Regions from separate parts of the Homo sapiens genome. Here region 2 is linked to region 1. The links come from fine-mapping of genetic effects on gene expression. A gene starts in region 1. The other region holds a variant in brackets. All regions are shown on one strand. Distances are from middle to middle.

The links. PIP is the estimated chance that this variant, and not a neighbour inherited with it, causes the effect. A credible set is the group of variants that fine-mapping cannot tell apart.
Region 2: its variant is the best candidate, but not a certain one, in a credible set for the expression of UBQLNL in lung (TOPMed, PIP 0.68).

Annotation. Positions count from the first base shown.
Region 1 is chr11:5,515,526-5,518,455 of GRCh38, forward strand. It overlaps UBQLNL (ubiquilin like), which reads right to left and starts at 1,174. Exons shown (of 1, transcript NM_145053.5): 1 at 1-1,174. The coding sequence starts at 916. It also overlaps the pseudogene OLFM5P.
Region 2 is chr11:5,645,240-5,648,169 of GRCh38, forward strand. It overlaps a transcript of TRIM5 not described here. Among named protein-coding and RNA genes, the nearest start is that of TRIM34, 22 kb to the left of the region's middle. The variant A/C (reference allele first, on the strand shown) is at 1,702.

The DNA of each region.
Region 1 (2,930 bases):
CTTGTTCTAGCACTTGTCCTGCCAGGAGAGCTGTGAAAGGGTTTCCTCCAAAAGGATCTTGCATGCTGTTCAGCATTTGATCATTGATATCAGCATAGTTCTGACCCAGGGCATTATTCCCACCTGGCATTGTCTCTAAGCCCAGATATGGCTGTGGGTTCAGTGGATACTCAAGGTTTTGTGAAGGTTGTTGGATCTGCATTATCTCTTGGATCATAGCAAGGTTCCTGGCCAGCTCCAGAGTCTGCAATAGGATCTCAGAATTATCAAGAAGAAGGCGGGAAACTTCTGGGTTCTGCTGCATCAATTGTTGCGTGTCTAGATGTTCTGAAATGAACTGCCACATGAACTCCATGTTGGACAGAAGCCGCTGGATGCTAGGATTCTCCAGCATCTGTGCTTTGCACTCTGGGTGGCTCACTTCCAAGTTTTGGGTATGCACTTTGGGTGCATCAGACCCCACAAAGTGGGCCAGTTCCACTGGAGCTTGATTCATACCAGTTGGTTGGTGCACTCTGCTGCTGTTTCCTTTGGTGTTTCTGTCCCGGTGGCAGGGATCATTCGTTGGCAGGTCCCGGAAGGAATGGGCTAGAGATCTGGAGCCCTGCTTGGACTTGATGACCAAGTAGATGGTGTGGCCATCCATGATGCCCCTCTGGCTCAGTGTGTCATGGTCTTTGAGAAGGCAACCCATGAAGACCAGCACTAGTTGGTCCATCTGGCATTGGAAGTGAGCCAATAGCATCTCCTTGAACTGCCTTACCGAGATGTCATCAGCTACCATAAAGTCTTTCTGGTTGCCTGCAGTCTTCACTATCACTCGAGTGGCACTTGAAGAGATATTTTTGTCTGCCAGCAGACCTGATGGACATCCACTCTGGGACATCCTGGATGTTCGAGAGATGGCATGCCACATGGGCTTTAGTGGGTGGGCAGATGGGGAGCAGGTGGAAGCTGGGGCAGAAAGGGTGAGGGCAGACAAATGTTTCTGCTGGCCTTTGTCTCAGGTATTGTGCTCTCAGGCCACAGGATAGTTTCCTTGTTGCCCTAAAAGGGATGAGTGACCAGACTGGGGCCAGATATTTTGTGATGTTGTGCCCTCACCCCAGTTCTCCAGATGTGGCCCAGCTGAGGCCTGGCATAGCTACTGATTCATAATTCACCCATGGTGGACAAAGTGGTGATGACTTCTCCTAGGGCTACCCCTCCTCCTACCCCACCCACCAGGGGCATGAATCCTCAGAAAAGGGATATTGTGATGTCAACTCTATCCTCGCAGTCACCCTGGGCCAGCTGGGGAAGGAGGACATATTTAGGGGTCCAGGGCTCTACAATAAAATAAAATAATTTTCCAGAAAACAGGGACAAAGTTCTCTGGATGGAACTAGTAAGAAAACAAAAAAGTAAATAAAAACCATATTTTTAAATGTGGGATGTGTGTTTCCGTGTGATACTGTGTGTATGTTCCTTATAGGGATGTTAGACTTGTATGAAAAGTTGGGTCTACTGAAGCCATAGATAAAGCCACATTCCTATAAGAATGCAGTCTCTCCCATAGGAAGGAGCGCATTAATTTTTTTAATGATCTGGAAATTTGGGTCTTATATAGAGTCTAGATTTTGGGATTCTATATTTAATTGTGCTCCCATGTGGTGGGGAAAATTTTCCTCTGTCCTAGGAAGCAGGAGTAGGGCTAACCAGGAAGGCTCTTCATAGGCACATGCCAAACTAAATGTGAATTAGCTCTTTTTTATAATATGCCTTTTATTCACATATCACTTGGTCTCTTCTACATGTCAATATAACAGAAGTTTTAGAATGATTTGTTTCAATGTCCTAACCCACTCTTGTGTGCCCACCTTTATGTCAAAGCATTAAGGGGGAATGTCGTCTGTAAATCAAGAGGTGGGAGAGGAGGTGGTTAGTAGTAAAATTCTTAAGGGGACAAATACAGGCAACTAAAAAGCTGGATTCTTGGTCCCATGTAAATTTGGAGAATTGTGTTTGGTTTTTATTTAGATGCAGATGGAAATAATTATTTATATGAGTGAGAGTGTACATGTCTTATCGAATGTATATATGAAATTGTATGCATATTCTGTGTTACTAGGAAGCCTTCAGGGTCTGGATTTTATATATTCCATCCACCTGCCTGGAGAGGGAGGAGCACCACACAGATAGCTAAGGAACAAGCAAAAAGCTCGAGCCCATATGTTCCCAGTGTGTTGAAGACAAGCAAAGGGATGATAGGCCGTTGGCCAGGAGACCTTCTGCTATCAAACCAATGATTCTTTATTGAGAATATCTAGACCCCCAGCACCATCCATGTCAGATCCTCATCATGCTATAAGGCCAGTTGCTAACTTACTACAGCAAGACTCAGGCCTATTCTCTTGCAATTGCACTCAAAAGTGAGATCGATCCAGGACAATGAAAAATTGATTACCAGACCAAGATCTTGCCCCTTTTCTCCCCAGGGACCTCACAGGAAGGTGGAGATAAGAAAGGGAACTTTCATATCCTACTCTAATGACCAGCTGCCCTGCAGCTTCTGCACTGGAATCAGGTGTTCCCAACCTGAGATTGACAATTCTAGATCACAGAACTCTTGAGTTCCGGGAGCTGGATTTATGAAAAAAGGAATATGAGATGCCAAAGCATCAGAAAGAGAGGGTACCATTTTCTTAGCTAATATTTTACTTTTTCCCTATCAAATCCACCTAGACCATTATTAAAGGGAACCTTAATGTACTGATTGAGATATTAATTACATAAAGAACTCACTAGATATAATCAGTCTTCCAATCATTAGGACCAATGGCCACTTTGGGATGTGGTCCTCCTGGAGGTAAGGAAGAGGGCACACTTCTACCAATGCTCTGCCTAGCCCTGGGGTCTCAGGGTCTGGAAGCCTCGTTAGGTTTGACAGG
Region 2 (2,930 bases), 130 kb after region 1:
AAATTAGCTGGATGTGGTGGCGAGCCCCTGTAATCCCACCTACTTGGGAGGCTGAGGCATGAGAATCGCTTGAACCTGGGAGGCGGAGGTTGCAGTGAGCTGAGATTGCACCACTGCACTCCAGCCTGGGCAACAAGAGCAAAACTCTGTCTCAAAAAAAAAAAAAAAAAACTGTGAAAAAAGTGGTTTGTTATATAGATCACCAAAAAATTATGAAACATTGTCATACAATTCAATGCTAGGTTTTAAATCTCTGTAAAATGAATAGGTTAAAATTAACAATCTTACAATCAGGAAGAAGCAGAAAATTCCGTAGAACCACAATAATAAAATGATGTAAACATTATAAAATTATATGTGTTCAAGTGCATAGAATGAGAGTACTTTTGAAGGTCTAATGTTTTGGGTCAGTTCTACAATCAGGAAGAAAAAAAGACAGGCCTACCTTTCCTTCTTCAGAAGAGAGTGGGGACAGAGGAGATTTGATGAGGGTCAAGTCTAGGAAAAGCTTCACTTTTGCTCATTGTATGTTGATTCTCTGGATACATTCCCACCTGTTCTTTGCCCTGATGATGAGACTTTTACCCAGATGTGACAACTGCTCTCTTCATCTCATCTAGTCTTCTGGAAAAAAAAAAAAAATATATATATATATATCTATATATAGATATATATAGATATATATATAGATATATAAAACATGTATATTAAATGTATATTAATATGTGTATGTATTTATAACATATGTGTAATTTATAATTATATATAATACATATATACATATGTATAGTACACATAAATATATTAGATTATATATGTATAATACATATAAATGTATACATTTTAATATACATGTATATTATATAAATATACATATACACACGTACACACACACATATCCCCAAATACACCAACCACCCTCATGTTTCTTCCCAGAATTCCAACCACCAGAGGCACAGCTTTTTTGGAAATATCATTTTACCACAGTAGCACTGGATGTCTGTCCACTCTGAAATGATAAAAATTCATAATATTGACTATATGCAAAGGAGGCAGCACTGACGTCAATTTTTTCTCCAGAACAGAGAAAGAGGAGGGGACTATGTTAGGGCAATGAATTTGCGAATAATAGCATGAAACAGTCTCTTGGTTATTCTCCATCAAATATGACCACATCATCAGCACACAATGTCCATCCTCCCTTATCTCTTCCATCTACGCCTAGAAACTGCTCTCTTCCCTGTCTAGCACCTGCCACCACTAGACTACTGCAGATCTAGTTGTTCTAGCTCTTCTCATCTTTACACGCTTGAAGCATTCCTCTTAGATGAGAAGCTCAACACACTTCCCTTTATTCTTTGGGAAACGTTTTTAGCTTAAGTCAAATTCTCACCCCTAGGAATGAAAAAAAATTGACTCCCAAACCTCTGACTTTGTAACCCTTGGACACCACTGATTTCCTATCATTTCACCCCACTGATGTACTTGAACTCTGTTCCCTGAGAAGGGAGAGGGCAGACCCTTGACCCTAGAACCAGACAAAATGTACTCGTGTCCACTTTCTCCCTTACTCTCTGTATGACCATGGGATGGTCTTAACCTCTCAGAAGCACAGTTTCTTCCTTCCAAAATGAAATAATTAATCTCTCCCTCTCTACCTTCTTGAGCTCATAGGACATGAAGAAATAATGGATTTTAAAA[A/C]AAACAAACAAAAAAACTTTGGTGCCTTAACAAAACGATTTAATGTGTGGAAACATCATTGCTATGGATGTGGGTTACCAGAAAGATGGTTAGACAGTGAGGTTGCAGGACCTGGCTCCTGGGTGTTTGAGACGTATCAGGAGAGGAATCCTGTCTGGAGAGGCCTAAGACCTTCAAAGCCTATTTCCACTAGAGAAGTGCTCAGATAATATCTGAGGTTCCATGTTTTTTGGGGAAAATTACCAATACTTGGCAAAGGGGATTTTATGAATACCAAACTAATAGTGGTCTGAATTTTGTGTGTTTAGAAAAGCTCTATATTGTCAAGTAGGTGTACAGTTTTAGACACTAAGATGTCACCTTTTCATACTCTTCTAAAGTATCTGACTGAGATGAATCAATTGTTTACACCAAGGAAAAAAACTATTCCAGAAATGCATATCTCTTTTTTTAAATCTAAATAGAATCACAAGGAAGGATCTGTTCTCTTCTATACCCACAGGAAAAATATAAATATATAGGAGTTGTCTGAATGAAAAATTTGGGGTGCTTGGCAGACAAGATATAATTCTCTTATAGCAAATGAGACATCATTTTTTTGAGACAAAGTCTCACTCTGTTACCCAAGCTGGAGTTCAGTGGTGCAATCTTGGCTCACTGCAACCTCCACCTCCCGGGTTCAAGCAGTTCTCCTGCCTCAGCCTCCTGAGTAGCTAGGACTACAGGCACACGCCACCATGCCTGGCTAATTTTTGTATTTTTAGTAAAGAGGGGATTTCACTACGTTGGCCAGGCTGGTTTTGAACTCCTGACCTCGTGATCCACCTGCCTTGGCCTCCCAAAGTGCTGGGATTATAAGCGTGAACCACCACGCCCGGCTGAGACACCTATTAAATACAAAACCAGAGCTAGATGGAGGTAATGCAATGGTGATGTCACGGGGGTCTGATACTGCAACACCTTATCCCTAATACCACTATTGATCCACACACTCTGTGACTCTCCACCACCCAAATTTTATACCATAGAATGCGATTTATTCTCGGTAGTTTTAGAATGCTCAAACCCTAAATTGTGACCAGAAATTTACAATAATATTATATCTAAATTTCCTGTCCTGGGAGATGTTTTATTCTGATTGAACTCCGGGCAATTCTAATGGCTACACATCTTTTCTCACAACACAAAAGGACAATCTCTGTTCTCCCACATATATCACTTTATGATGC